Linked DNA regions of Homo sapiens: region 2 is linked to region 1. A link means that fine-mapping ties the variant in region 1 to the expression of a gene that starts in the linked region. Tissue or cell type: lung. Region 1 holds a variant in brackets; the other region holds the start of a gene. All regions are shown on one strand. Distances are between the middles of the regions.

What was found. PIP is the estimated chance that this variant, and not a neighbour inherited with it, causes the effect.
Region 2: MFGE8 starts here. The variant in region 1 is fine-mapped to the expression of MFGE8 in lung (TOPMed, PIP above 0.99).

The regions. Positions count from the first base shown.
Region 1 is chr15:89,008,822-89,016,924 of GRCh38, forward strand. No RefSeq gene overlaps it. Among named protein-coding and RNA genes, the nearest start is that of CARMAL, 28 kb to the right of the region's middle. The variant C/T (reference allele first, on the strand shown) is at 3,771.
Region 2 is chr15:88,909,902-88,917,999 of GRCh38, forward strand. It overlaps MFGE8 (milk fat globule EGF and factor V/VIII domain containing), which reads right to left and starts at 3,478. Exons shown (of 8, transcript NM_005928.4): 1 at 3,346-3,478; 2 at 1-22. The coding sequence starts at 3,418. RefSeq lists an enhancer at 2,688-3,219 and a cis regulatory region at 7,925-8,098.

The sequences.
Region 1 (8,103 bases):
TTATTTTATTTTATTTTATTTTATTATTTATTTTAGATAGAGTCTTGCTCTGTCACCCAGGCTGGAGTGCAGTGGCATGATCTTGGCTCACTGCAACCTCTGCCTCCCAGGTTCAAGTGATTCCCCTGCCTCAGACTCCCAAGTAGCTGGGATTACAGGCACTCGCAACCACACCCGGCTAATTTTTGTATTTTTAGTAGAAATGGGGTTTCACCATCTTGACCAGGCTGATCTTGAAGTCCTGACCTCGTGATCCACCCTCCTCGGCCTCCCAAAGTGCTGGGATTACAGATGTGAGCCACCATGCCCACATTAAGTCATTTTAAACGTTCTAGTAGCCACATTGTTACAGTAGGAAGTTGAATCAGGCATGAGTGGGGCAGGAGAGGGCTCCCCTCACCCACCAGGAATGTCAGGCAACCATCAGGTGATGGTTTGGCAGTTGTCACACTGCCTCTCTAAAAATGATATTTGGCAGCTGGTGCTAGGGAGAGGCAATTTCCTGATGGCCCACAGTTGTCACACTAAATAATTGGTCACAGGCACCAAGGAGAGGCAATTTCTCAATAGATAAAAACACTTGAAATTCGTCATCAGCAGCTTCCAATAATTTATCCGGAATTGGGCGCGTGAGTTTAGGCATGCACATTAAGAGACAAAATGGTGGAGTATGACTTCGTGGGCATTCCACCAGAAAAGGAAAGAATGCCTCAGGTGAGCATGCATACAACTTCTAAAACACACTGTGCATGCTCACCTCCAAAGCGCAGAGAGGGCACCGTGCATGCGGGCAGCTCGCCGTATGGGAAGGATGAAGGGAAATGGGAACAAGACACTGGAAGTAGGCCAGCATATACAACCCTAAGTCAAAAGATCCAACATCACACTTGACCTTCACGGTGCCCATCTGGGTGTCTTCCAAGTGTGCTTTCCTTCCTTTGCTGCTGTAAAGCTTTTTAGTAAACTTCCACTCCTGCTCTGAAACTTGCCTCGGTCTCTTTTTCTGCCTTATGCCCCTCAGTCAAAACCTTTTTTCTGAGGAAGCAAGAATTAAGGTAGCTGCAGACCGATACGTATTTGCCACTGGTAACCCACATATTTGCCGCCCCTAATAACATTACAAAAGGAAAAAGAAACAGATAGAATTAATTTTAATGTAATTGATAGATAAGTAGGTTTTTTTTTGTTTTTTTTTGAGACTAGGTCTCTGTCCCCCAGGCTGGAGTGCAGTGGCATGATACAGCTCACTGCAGCCTCAACCTCCAAGGCTCAGGTGATCTTCTCACCTCAGCCTCTCAGGTAGCTGGGACTACAGGTGTACACCACCATCTCCAGCTAATTTTTTTGTATTTTTTTAAGAGACAGGGTTTCACCACGTTGCCCAGGCTGGTCTCACACTTCTGGCCTCAAGCGATCTTCCCATTTCAGCCTCCTAAAGTGCTGGGATTACAAGCTTGAGCCACTACGCCTGGCCTAATGTATATTTTAATGAAACATCCAGAATATTACCATTTCAACATTTAACCAACATACGATTATTAATAAGAGAGTTTACCTTTTATATTGTTTTTAGCACTAAGTCTTTGCAATCTTGTATATTACACCTACAACACAAATCAATTCAGACTGTCCCTGTTCCAAGGGCCACACATGGCTAGTGGCTACCACGGTGGACAGAGCAAATCTAGATAATGCACAGAGTAATTTATTGCAAAGTATGTTTATATGGATGGGATAATTTATTATAGAGGATAGAATGTAAGTATTACAAACACTGACAAAGTAAAAGTAAGGATATAGTCACAGAGGTTGGGAAATGTGGGGAGATAACAGGATGAACACATTTTACATAGTAGGAAGTGAATCAACAGAAATTTAAGTATAGAATTTAGAATTATAGTGTAACCATTTGTTTCAGTCTATTGCCGTGTAACAACCTACTCCAACATTTAGCGGCTTAAAGCAACAACTATTTTATTTGCTTGTGGTTCTGTGGGCCAGGAAGGCAAGTCACACTTGGTTGGCGGGTGCTATTTCTCATGGTAGTGGCTGAAGCACTGGGATAGCTGGAGACTCCAGAATGGCCCACTTGCATGACTGGCAGTGGGTGCTATCAGCCAGCTTAAGCTCAGCTGGGATTGCTGGCCAGGGACCTCTGTTCTCCTGTGAGCCTCTCTCCAGGCTGCTCAGGCTTCCTCAGGGAAGGGGTTCTAAGAAGGAACCTCTCAAGAACTGAAGATAGATGTTGCAGATGTCTTAAAACCCAGCCTTGGGGCCAGGCGCGGTGGCTCACGCCTGGAATCCCAGCACTTTGGGAGGCCTAGGCGGGCGGATCACCTAAGGTCAGGAGTTTGAGACCAACCTGGCCAACATGGCAAAACCCTGTCTCTACTAAAAATACAAAAACTAGCCTGACGTGGTGGCACGTGCCTGTAATCCCAGCTACTCAGGAGGCTGAGGCAGGAGAATTGCTTGAACCCAGGAAGCAGAGGTTGCAGTGAACCAAAATCGTGCCATTGCACTCCAACCTGGGCGACAGAGTGAGACTCCATCTTAAAAACAAAACAAAACCAAAAAGAACCCCAGCCTTGGAAGGTACACATTTTCACTTTTCGTGCATTTTATTGATAGAAATAGGTCACAGGGCCAGCCAAAATTCAAGGGAAGGGAAACTAGACTCCGCCTCTTAATGGAGGGAAAGCAAATTAATACTGCAAAAGAGCACGTAGGATGGGACATCTCGTTGCGTCCAACATTGAGAACACAATCTACCCTACCACTAGAAGAAAACAGACAGATAACAGACACTTGGGGAGAAGACAGGTGGGAAGGGAGCTGAGAGAGCTAGCTTGAAAATTATTTACTCTGGATACAGTCAGATGTTGATAAATCAATAAATATGAGACTGTAAAAAGTAAAGTAGAGGTTCCTCTTCAAAGACTTTCCTCCCTGTCTAATTAGGAATAGATAGTAACTTTTCTTAGAAGCAAAATTTATTCAAAGACCTATGCTAACATTCTTAAATATCTGCCAGCCATAATAAAGAAATCAATGTACTTTATGCTCTTAGCTCCCACAATTTAGCCTAAATATATGCCCTGGCATGCTTATACTGGTCCAAGCATGGCCTGTTCCTCTTCCTTATTTGAAGGTGTTTTTACCTTTTTCAGCATTCCATAAGTTACTTCCTCCTTCCTTTGTTCTCCTCTGCCTTTGCCTCTTTTAAAAAGTTCTAAGTTGCAGACGGGTGAGGTGGCTCACGCCTGAAATCCCAGTACTTTGGGAGGCCGAGACAGGTGGATCACGAGGTCAGGAGATCGAGACCATCCTGGCCAACATAGTGAAACCCCGTCTCTACTAAAAATTCAAAAAAATTAGCCAGGCGTGGTGGCGGGCGCCTGAAGTCCCAGCTACTCGGGAGGCTGAGGCAGAAGAATGGCATGAACCCTGGAGGCAGAGCTTGTAGTGAGCCGAGATCGCGCCACTGCACTCCAGCCTGGGTGACAGCGAGACTCCGTCTCAAAAAAAAAAAAAAAAGTTCTAAGTTGCTAGCCAATCGGGACAAATACAGAATGTCAGGTCCTGCTCAAGCCAGTGGAAACCAGACACAGCAGTAGGGAAGACACGTCAGGTTATAAATGACCCTGTCTCCTTTGTTTGGTGTGCTCTCATGGCAAAACTGCTGATGAGTGTACCCTTTCTGCAGAAAGTATAAAAATGGCCTTGCTGAGGAATTAAATTAATGTTCAAGTGCTATTTCTTCATGGCAC[C/T]GGGGAACAAACATTTCAAACAAGACAGAAACAGTGATTTAGTGTAATACTGACAACAGAAAAGACACAAAACAGAGTGGTAAAATCACTACCTCTGGGTGGTAGGAATGGGGTTGGGAAGATGAAGCAGGAGACGTTGATGTTGCATGTTCTACTTTGTTAAACCGAGGGAATTAGTATTAAGAAATGGTGTTCATGGGCTGAGCGCAGTGGCTCACACCTGTAATTCGAGCACTTTCGGAGGCCAAGGCAGGAGGATCACCTGAGGTCAGGAGTTTGGGACCAGCCTGGCCGATACAGTGAAACCCTGTCTCTACTAAAAATTCAAAAATTAACCGGGTGTGATGGCATACACCTGTAATCCCAGCTACTCAGGAGGCTGAGGCACGAGAATTGCTTGAACCCAGGAGGTGGAGGTTGCAGTGAGCCAAGACTGCACCATTGTACTCCGGCCTGGGTGACAGAGTGAGACTCTGTCTAAAAAAAAAAAAAAAGGAATGAGATTCATGGATTATTTTTATGACGTAAATAAACATATATTATGAAGCTAGATAAAAATAAACCTATGAGACAAGGAGGGTACATAAGAGAGAAAGAAAGAATTTGTGGACTCTAGCAACATATAAAAAGGACTATACACCATGACCAAGCAAGATTTACTCCAGGATATGCCAAGTTGGTTTAACACTGAAAATCAATCAATGTAATACACCATGTTAATAGAATAAAGGACAAAACCACACGATCATCTCAATAGATGCAGAGAAAGCATTTGACAAATTCCAACAACTTTCGTGATACTCAACAAGAAGGAGTAGAAGAGAACTCCCTCAACCTAATAAAGGACATCTACAGAAATCCCACAGCTAACATTAGACTTAATGATGAAAGACTGAATGCTCTCCCAGTAAGATCAGGAAAAAGACAAGGATGTCCGTTCTCACCCCATCTATTTAACATTGTACTGGAGCTTCCAGCCAAAGCAACTGGGCAGGAAAAATAATTTAAAGGCATACAGATTGAAAAGGAAGAAGTATAACTCTGTGTTCACCGATGACTTGATCTTGTACATAGAAAATCCTAAGAAATCACATACACACATGTACTGGCGCAACTATGAGAGCTATAAACAAGCTCAACAAGGTTGAAGGATACAAGACCAATATATAAAAATCAACTGTATTTTATACACTAGAAATAATCCAAAAAATGAAATTAAAAAAACAATTCTATTTATAGTTACATGAAAGAGAATAAAATATTTATAAGTAAATTTAACAAAAGAAGGAATGACATACACATCTAAAACTACAATCATTGAAATAAATAAAAGGAAGATGCCGCCTGTTTTTGGATTGGGAGACTTGGTAAAATGGCGATACTATTCAAATTAATGTACAAGTTCAACACAATGTTGTTGTTTTTGAGACAGAGTCCCGCTCTGTCTCCCAGGCTGGAGTGCAGTGGCACAATCTCGGTTCACTGCAACCTCCATCTCCTGGGTTCAAGCAATTCTCCTGCCTCAGCCTCCCAAGTAGCTGAGATTATAGGCATATGCCACCATGCCTGGCTAATTTTTGTATTTTTAGTAGAGATGGAGTTTCGCCATGTTGGCCAGGCTGGTCTTGAACTCCTGGCCTCAGGTGATCGCCCGCCTCAGCCTACTAAAGTGCTGGGATCACAGGCGTGAGACACCATGCCCAGCCTCAACACCATCCCTGTCAAAATTCTAGCTGCCTGTTTTGCAGAAATTGAAAAGCTGATCCTAAAATGCATATGGAAATGCATGGGACCCGGAATAGGCAAAACAATCTTGAGAAGAACAAAGTTAGAGGATTCACAGTTTCTGATTCAAGACTAAGTGGTACTGGGACAAGGACAGACACATAAACCAAGAGAACAAAACTGAGAGTCTAGAACTAAACCCACATATTTATGGGCAATTGACTTTTGACAAGGTGGCAAGCCCATTCGATGAGGAAAAGACATAGCTTTTCAACAAATGGTGCTGAGACAACTGGATATCCACATCCAAAAAAAAAAAAAAAAAAGTTTAATCCCCTACATCACACCATATACAAAAATTAAGTCAAAAAGGATCAAAGCCTACATGTAAGATCTAAAATTATAAAACTCATAGAGAAAACATAGAAGTAAATTATTGTGAACTTGGGTTAGGCAAGGATTTCTTAAATATGACACAAAACACAAGTAACAAAAGAAAAAACAGATAAGCTGGACTTTATCAAAACTAAAAACTTTTGTACTTCAAAGGACACTACCAAAAAAAGTGAAAAGACAACCCACAGAATGGGAGAAAATACTTGCAAATCGCATGTCTAATAAAGGTCTGATATGAGAATACATAAAGAACTCTTATAATTTAAGAAAAAAGAGATAACCGAATTTTAAAATGGGCAAAGGATTTAAATAGATATGTCTCCAAAAAGGTATACAAGTGGCCAATAAGCACACAAAAAGATATTCAACATTATCAATCACTGGAGAAATGCATGTCAAAATTACAATGAGACGGCACTTCATATCCACTAGTATGGCTAAAACCAAAAACACAGACAATGAAAAGCGTGAGTGGGGACGTGGAGAAATTGGAACTCTCATATATTGTTGGTGGGAATATAAAATGGCAAAACCATGTTGTAAAACAGTGTGACGGTTCCTCAAAAGATTAAGCATAAAATTACCATATGACCTAGCAACTCCACTCCTATGCGTATGGCCAGGAGAAATAAAAACATGTATCTGCACAAAAGCTTGTATACAAGTGTTCATTACAGCACTATTCATAATAGCCAAAAGGTGGAAACAACCCAAATGTCCGTCAACAGTAACAAAAGATAAAACAGACAAGTTTGACAAGTTGAACTTTACCAAAACTAAAAGCTTTTGTACTTCAAAGGATACTACCAAAAAAACTGAAAAGACAACCCACCTAATAGGAGAAGACATTTGGAAATCACATGTCTGTAATAAACAAAGTGGTATATCCATACAATGGAATACTATTCAGCAATAAAAAGGAATAAAGTGCTAATGAATGCTACAACATGGGTGAGCCTTGAAAACATTACACTAAGTGAAAGAACCCAGTCACAAACGCCACATATCCTTTGATTTCACTTACATGACGTGTCCGGAATAAGAAATAGGTACAGTCAGAAAGTAGATTTGTGGTTTCCAGAGGCTGGGTGGAAGGGAAAGGGGGAGCAACTGCTCATGGGAACAGAGTTTCTTTTTAGGGTGATGGAAAGTTTCTCGAATCAGATAGTAGTGATTGTTGCACAACTCTGTGAGTATCCTAAAAGCTATTGAATTGTATACTTTAACATGATGAATGTTATGGTATGTGAAAAAGGAAGGAAGAGGTGAGAGAAAGAAAGAGTACAAATGCATATAAAACTTGGAGGAAGAAGAGAAAGAAATTAAGGAATTACTAAACCTTTTTTTTTTTTTCTTTTTGAGACAGAGTCTTGCTCTGTTGTCCAGGCTGGAGTACAGAGGCGTGATCTCGACTCACTGCAACCTCCGTGTTACAGGCTCAGGGATTCTCCTGCCTCAGCCTCCCAAGTAGCTGGGACTACAGGCATACATCACCACGCCCAGCTAATTTTTTTTTTCTTTTGTAGTTTTAGTAGAGATGGGGTTTCACCGTGTTAGCCAGGCTGGTCTTGAACTCCTGACCTCAAGTGATCTGCCCACCTTGGCCTCCCAAAGTGCTGGGATTACAGGCGTGAGCCACCGCACCTGGCCAAAACCTTTATTTTCTCAATGAAGCAGACATTCACTCCACAGACCTTATGTACTATATGCAGAACACTCAATAAATGCCTCTTGGCCCAGCTGAGGCTCAGTAGCTGATCATTCACTAAGAAGGCAGAGGGCTCTGCTGATGCAAAAGGGATACCGGGTTCAGGATTTCAACTGGGGGAAGTTTCCATTGAGCCTTCTAAGTGCAGGGAGCCTCCTGACCTCAAGTGATCCGCAGATCTCGGCGCCCCCATAGAGTGTTGAAGCATCCCGGGCCACCATCTGTGGCCCAAAAGGTTTTTTAAGGGGCAAGAATCCTTTTCTTGGCTTCTGCAGTCAGTCTCCTTGCCAGTGACAACATCAGGGCAGCAGTGGAAAAAGACACGCTTTCAGTTGCTGGATAAAGTGTCTTCACCGTCTTGGCAAGTAAGTGCTTTTGTTATTTTCCCACTAAGTGATTCATTCTCCTGGAGGCAACTCCTTGGGCACTTCCTGGACACCCACTCACCTGGAAACACTGAGGTCGCTCCTGTCCAAAAGGAGTGCTTCCTGTGGCTGCCTGCAG
Region 2 (8,098 bases), 99 kb before region 1:
CAGGGGTTTTTGGAACAGATATCTGGGGACAGAGACAGGTAAGATGAGCAGATGATCAGGAAGGAGCTGGGGACACAGGTGAGAAGTAGCAGATGGGTCCAGCCCAAAAGGACCCTCCACTCAAACTCGCCCATTATCTCTTCCTCTCCCTCTTCCCCCGTGTGCTGGATGGAGCCTGAGTCCGCCTAGAGCCAAGGAAGTCCATGTGTAGGCGAATCGGCCCACATAAGGGAAGCGCCCAGCTTTCCAAGTGGCCTGGGAGTGTCCAGAAAAGTGCTGGCTGACAATGGCAGTGGTGCTGGGGACCACTGCCCACTGGTGGAAGAGCTGGCAGCTGGGGTCTGGAGAGGCAGGCAAGGTCCAGGGCAGGTCTCTTGGCAGCAGTTTGATTGCAAAGGAGGCCCATGAGGACTTTCAGGCAGGGGCAGTGGAAGGAAGCATTGTTCTGGCCCATTGAGCAGGTTCCGCCCACCAATTCAGGCACAGGTTGCAGTCACAGATGTCACCTCCAATGGCAGCCCTGACTCAGGAACAGCACGATGATCATCCAGGAAACACTGGGAGGGCCAATGACCATGCTAGGCCCCCGAGACAGAGAAATCAGATGCAGCGCAGGCCTCAAGAAGCCAAGGGGAAAGAGGCCAGCAAGTCCACAGATGAGGAAGATTGCCCAACGCTCCAGAAGCCTGCATGGACCGTCACTGGAGGCATGATTTCTGCTGGGGAATTAGAAGTTCCCCAGAGGAGGGAATATTTGAGCTGGGTCTAGAAGACAAAGTAAGGGGGGTGCCAGACTGGGCAATGAGTAAAGAATGTTCCAAGAAAAGCAGATGCACAGAGGGTGTGGTATGTTGGAGCACAGTTAGATGCAGCTGGAAGGGTAGGCTGGGGCCAGACTGGGAGGGATCTGAAGAATGACAAGTTTAGTTTTTCATCCCGTAGAGCAGTGGCTTTTAACCTTCCTTCACCCTCCTCACCATTGTCCACCAGGGGGGAGAAAAAATAAAAATAAAATAAAAAACAAGAAACAAGAAACAGAGATTCTCAAGTGTGAGATGGGAGTGGGAAAGTCAGTTCCAATTGCGGGATGAAGAAGGCTGAAAAGGCCCATGTGCAGACATGCCGCTGAGCTCTCCCAGGGTGGGGAGCATCTGGTAGCTGCAGACAGGTCCCTCTGGCTGAAATGCAGAAATCCCACTGAAGAGGGTGAAGGTGGAGAGCAGGAGAGCATGGTGAGAGAGGAAGTCAGGGCAGAGGAGTGAAAAGGAAGGGTGATTTCAGAACCACCAGGGGGCAAGGGCTGGAGAGGCCACCAGGGCTTCTGGATGGGAACCTGGATGACAGATGTACACTATCAGCCCCGGTGGTGGAGAACACAGGAGAAGGAACAGGAGGGCCTGTCCTCAATCCCTTGACTCTGGTGGGTCGGCCGGGCCCAACAGGAGTCCTCTAGCCGACATTAGCATCCCAGAAGGGCTGCCCCAGACCCTACACCCAAATCTGTCATTTGGAGCAAGACATGAGACATCTTTTTGCCTTGGCCGGGCATGGTGGCTCACACCTGTAATCCCAGCACTTTGGGAGGCCGAGGTGGGAGGATCATGAGGTCAGGAGATCCAGATCATCCTGGCTAACACGGTGAAACCCCGTCTCTACTAAAAATACAAAAAATTAGCCGGGCCGGGCGTGGTGGCAGGTGCCTGTAGTCCCAGCTACTTGGGAGGCTGAGGAAAGAGAATGGCATGAACCCAGCGGGCGAAGCTTGTAGTGAGCCAAGACCGCGCCACTGCACTCCAGCCTGGGCGACACAGCAAGATTCCATCTCAAAAAGAAAAAAGAAAAAAAAAAAAACCTTTTTGCCTCCCCCTCAGAGTCACCCATCTAAGGCTGGAGAGTCCTCCTGAAATCTCAAAGCCCCTTCATCCCACTCCAGGGAAGGCAACAACACCATTAATGAGCGATCTGCCCTCAGAGCTCCCCCTCCAGGGGCCTCAGGAGCTTAAAGTGGCTCCCAAGGAGCTATTAGTCATTGGCTTTAAATAGCAGGTAATCCTTCCTCTGACCTGGCAGGCGGGGGCGAGCATTGACACAGACAGAGGCTTGGGTTGGGAATGGACTCTTCCCTCCCAACTGCACCGGCCCTCTCCCTACACTGCTCCAGGGCAAAACGGTCCAGTGGGAAAAAGGGAAAGGGAAAGGTGTACTCTACCCAGCCACGTTACCTGTGTGTAAGATAGGTATGGTGTTTCCTCCTTCTGGAAAAGGCCACATCACCCTGTATAAAAACATCTTTGGGACTTCAGAGTCCTGCTCTTTCGGGGACTTTCCAGTAACATTTGGCCAGAGTTCAGGTTGGGGGGTACAGGGAAGAGTAGAAAGGGGCTAAGAAGATCCAGCTGTCTTTCATGGTGGCCGGGGAGGGCCAGGAGCTCCCAAGTTCCTGGGAGCTTGGAGCACTCTGGAAGCTCTAGCCCCGAGGGTCAGGCAGATCACAGGACATAGGGCTGGGGCTCAGCTGTTACCTACCTTGCTTCAGTCAATCCCATTTCTATGAGAAAATGATGGAGGGGCCACCTAAAGAGTCCTGGCCCTGACTCCCTCCCAGCGCTCCACGGTGAATGGCACGGGGCATCCGCAAGTCCAGCCTGCAAGGGGCCCAGCTGGCCTCCGGAGGCCTCCTGGGAGGCGGAGGAGGACCGGGGAAGATACAGCAGCCGGCCAAGGCCGCGGGAGGGAGGGAGTCAGGAGACTCCCATCAGCAGGCAGCCCTCTTCCAAGCTCCTCGAAGCCTCTGGGTCCCCTCCCGGGCCCCACTTACGGCCTGCGTCCATTGCACCGACTCCCCGGCCCTTCCCTTATGTGACCAGGCACGGACAATTGGGAGCGCAAAAATCCAATGAACTGTCCAGCCAACTGGAGTTGGCAGGGAGATGGCCAGGACAAAGTTATCCAGACAAGACTTATCCATACTAGAGTCCTAGAATCTCCCAGGTGGAAGGGGTTCGAAAGTCAAACGCAGTTCCCTGGCCTCATTTTTCACCAGGGAAAAGAGAGGCCCGACACAGCGGATTCCTTTGTCATTATCTGTAAGCCGCATCCCTGGGGGCGGCAGGGCTGTCACCCGATGTCCCGAGTCCCAGCCCAAAAGCCCCAGCGCAGAGACAGCAGGGCCGCATCCCCCTGTCCCGCCAGGGCGCAGCGGAAGAAGCCGCCCCTCTGCCCAGCCCGGTCCCCGGGGCTTTGTCTAAGTTTGTCAACAGTGGAGGTGGAGGGCGGGCGCCGGGCAAACTTCCGAGCGGCGCGGGGAGGAGGGGCGAGGGGCAGAGGGCGGCGCGATCCACTCACCCAGGGCGACGAGGAGGCTGGGGGCGCAGAGCAGCGCGCCGCACAGCGCGGCCAGCAGGCGGGGGCGCGGCATGCTGCGGGGACGCGGGCGCTGGAATGGGCACGCTGGGCTGCTCAGACCCCGCGGGGTTCTGGCGCCTTCTCCTCTGGGACCGGAATAAATCAGGCGGCTCAGCACCTCCCACTGGCCGTGCGCTCCGCCCAAGCTGGCCAGAGGCGGACTGGGGGCGGGGCTCCGCGGCTGGGAGGGAATTGGTTGAAAGGAATTGGGGGGCGCGGGGGTGGTCCGCGATATCTGCCTCTTCCGCCACTGCCACACCGGCGTCCCGCGTCGTGCCAACGGCCGGGTCACGAGTCTTGAGTCTGTTGGGCGGGAAAAGTTCAGGAGTTTTGTTTTTAAGATTTTTAGACTTGAAAAGATGCTAACTCTTTATTCATAATCAGATAGATGCAAATTAAAACTACAATGAGCATCGTGTTTCCCTTCTCGGATCGGCAAGTATCAAGATGTTAACAAGGTTAGTGGAGGCTGTGGGGAACAGGTCCAAGCATGCTTCGCTGAAGACAGTATAAATTAGTTCAACTTCCCTAGAGGGCTATTTGGTAACACCTATCAAAACGACAAATGCTGACACCTTAAGACCTAGCATTTCCACATAGAGAGATTCATTCTACAGAAACTCCCATGTGCAAAATGACAGATATACAAAGATAGCATAGCAACATTGTCTGAAATGGTAAAATACTAAAAAAAAAAAATCAGCGAAGGTTTCTGTAAAGGGCCTAATAGAAAATGTTCTCTGATATGTAGGCCCTGAGTCTCTGTAGCAGCTATTCATCTCTGCCTTTGTTGCAAGAAAGGCACCATAGACAAAATGCGAGGAAATGGGCACCTGTTTGCCGAAAGGGAATAAAACAAAGCAAGCCTGTCACCGTTGACTTTTTACTAAATGATTTGTACTTATCATGTGCAAATATTACCTGTTTACAAATAAGTGATTTTAATAATAGTGTTTTGGCTGGGTGCGGTGGCTCACACCTGTAATCCCAGCACTTTGGGAGGCCGAGGCACGTGGAACACCTGAGGTCGGAGTTCAAGACCAGCCTGGCCAAGATGGTGAAACCCCGTCTCTACTAAAAATACAAAAATTAGCCGGGCGCAGTGGCAGGTGCCTGTAATCCCAGCTACTCGGGAGGCTGAGGCAGGAGAATCGCTTGAACCCAGGCGGCAGAGGTCCCAGTGAGCCGAGATCATGCCACTGCACTCCAGCCTGGGTGACACAGTGAGACTCTGTCTCTAATAATAATAATAATAATAATAATAATAATAATAATAATAATGCTTCAGGCTGGGAGTGGTGACTCAAGCCTGTAATGCCAGCTCTTGGGGAGGCCGAGGTAGGCATATCACTTAAGCTCAAGAGTTCGAGACCTTCCTGGGCAACATGGCAAAACCCTGTTTCTACAAAAAAAGAAATACAAAAATATTCCAGGCGCATGCCTGTAGTCCCAGCTACTCAGGAGGCTGAGGTGGGAAGATCGCTTGATCCCAAGAGGTCGAGGCTGCAGTGAGCCACGATTGCACCACTGCACTCCAGCCTGGGCAACAGAGCGAGACTGTCTCAAAAAATAATAACAATACTAATACTAATAAGTATTTAAGTCAGACTAGCCAACAAACAAAATAGAACAGTCACACATCTCCCCTCCTAGCTGTGTTGAGACCTAAGTTGGGACTAGAGTCCACTGGCAAGATGCCCTTCTTAAAATATTCAGAAGCGGGTACTGGGCGTGGTGGCTCATGCCTGTAATCCCAACATTTTAGGAGGCCGAGGCAGGCGGATCACGAGGTCAGGAGATCGAGACCATCCTGGCTAACACAGTGAAACCTCGTCTCTACTAAAAATACAAAAAAAAAATTAGCCGAGCGTGATGGTGGGTGCCTGTAGTCCCAGCTGCTCAGGAGGCTGAGGCAGGAGAATGGCGTGAGCCCGGGAGGCGGAGCTCGCAGTGAGCCGAGATCGCGCTACTGCACTCCAGCCTGGACAACAGAGCAAGACTCCGTCTTAAAAAAAAAAAAAACATATATATATATATGGGGAAAAGACATATAGGATCAACTCAATAATCACAGAAAAAGCATTTGATAATATCCAACACGTCTTCGTGATAAAACACTCAACAAACTAGAAGTGAAAGGGAGCTTCCTCAACCTGATTTTTAAAAATCTATGAAAAACCGATGGGTACAGTGGCTCACGCCTGCAATCCCAACACTCTGGGAGGCTTAGGCGGGCAGATCAGCTGAGGTCAGCAGTTCGAGACCAGCCTGACCAACATGGTGTAACCTGGTCCCTACTAAAAATACAAAAAGTAACCAGGCATGGTGGTGCACACCTGCAATCCCAGCTACTCAAGAGGCTGAGGCACAAGAATCGCTTGAATCTGGGAGGCGGCAGTTGCAGTGAGCCGAGATTGCACCCCTGCTCTCTAGCCCGGGTGACACAGTAAGACTCTGTCTCAAAAAAAAAAAAAAAAGTGTGTATATATATATATATATGTATATATATATATATGTGTATATATATATGTATATATATATGTGTATATATATGTGTATATATATGTGTATATATATATGTATATATATGTGTATATATATATACATATATATATGTATATATATGTGTATATATATATACATATATATATATATATGTATATATATGAAAAACCCATAGCTACTATCATACTTAATGGTGAAAAACTGAATGTTTCCCCTAAGCTCAGGAATAGGACATGGTGTTCTGCTCTCATCACTTCTATTTCATCACTGTGCTGGAGGTTCCAGCCAGGACAATTACGCAAGAAACAGAAAATACATCCCCATTGGAAAGGAGGCAGTAAAACTATCTCTATCTCTACTTACAGATGGCATGATCTTGTATATCAAAAACCCTAAAGAGCCAGGCGCAGTGGCTCATGCCTGTAATCCCAGCACTTTGGGAGGCTGAGGTGAGCAGATCACCTGAGATCAGGAGTTCAAGACCAGCCTCAACATGGAGAAACCCCGTCTCTACTAAAAATACAAAATTAGCTGAGCGTGGTGGTGCATGCCTGTAATCTCAGCTACTCGGGAGGCTGAGGCAGGAGAATTGCTTGAACCTGGGAGGCGGAGGTTGCGGTGAGCCAAGATCGCGCCATTGCACTCCAGCCTGGGCAACAAAAGCGAAACTCCATCTCAAAAAAAAAAAAAAAAAAACAACCCTAAAGAATCCACATACACACACACACACACACACAAACACACAACTATTAAAGATAATAAATGAGCTAAGCAAGGTTGCAGGATACACAATTAATATACAAAAATCAGTTGTATTTCTTACACTAGAAATAAACAATCCAAAAACATAATTTTTAAAAATCCCATTTACAATAGGATTAAAAAGAATAAAATACTTAGGAATAAATTTAACAAAAGAAATACAAGACATGGCGGGGCACGGTGGTTCATGCCTGTTATCCCAGCACTTTGGGAGGCCAAGGTGGGTGGATCACCTGAGGTCAGGAGTTCAAGACCAGCCTGACCAACATGGCGAAACCCTGTCCCTACTAAAAATACAAAAAGTAGCCAGGTGTGGTGGCTGGCACCTGTAATCCCAGCTACTCGGGAGGCTAAGGCAGGAGAATCGCTTGAACCTGAGAGGCAGAGGTTGCAGTGAGCTGAGATCGTGCCACTGCACTCCAGCCTGGGTGACAGAGAGAGACTTCGTCTCAAAAAAAAAAAAGAAAAAGAAATACAAGTACGTTGAACACTACAAAACATCATCAAAAAAATTAAAGAAGATCTAAACAAATGGAAAATTATCCCCTGTTGATAGGTTGGAAGACTTGTATTGTTAAGATGCCAGTACACCCCCAAATTGATGTACAGACTCAATACAATCTCTGTCAAAATTCCATCTGCCCTTTTTGCGGAAATTGACAAGTTGATACTAAAATTCATACGGAGGCCTGGCGCAGTGGCTCATGCTTGTAATCCCAGCACTTTGGGAGGCCAATGCGGGAGGATCACAAGGTCAGGAGATCGAGTCCATCCTGGCTAACACAGTGAAACCCCGTCTCTACTAAAAATACAAAAAATTAGCCGGGTGTGGTGGTGGCCGCCTGTAGTCCCAGCTACTCGGGAGGCTGAGGCAGGAGAATGGTGTGAACCTGGGAGGCAGAGCTTTCAATGAACCGAGATCACACCACTGCACTCCAGCCTGGGTGACAGAGCGAGACTCTGTCTCAAAAAAAAAAAAAAAAAAATCACACGGAAATGCAAGGGACCCAGAATAGCCAAAACAATCTTGAGGAAAAAAAAAGAACAACATTGAAAGACTAACATTTCTCAATTCCAAAACTTACTACAAAGCTATAATAATCAAGTCTTCTAATTAGAATTTACTGTTCCCAACCTGTCTCTCTTAAATTTGCAGTCTCTCCTATAGTTCTTATCAAACTTTGCCTCATATTGGAATGATGGTCGCAATACCTGTCACTCGATTGTAAGTCCTGGTATATGGAATAATGTCATATGTATTCTTGTCACCCTAGCCCAGCACCTTTTATGTAGAAAGAGATCCATCAGCAGTGTTACTTTCAGTCGCCTCCCTGTGACCAAGCCTTCTCCCAGAGAAGGAAGCTGCCCTGCTCAGGGACATATGACCCATCCCCAAACCACAGGCTCCCTCATGGTCTTCAGGGTT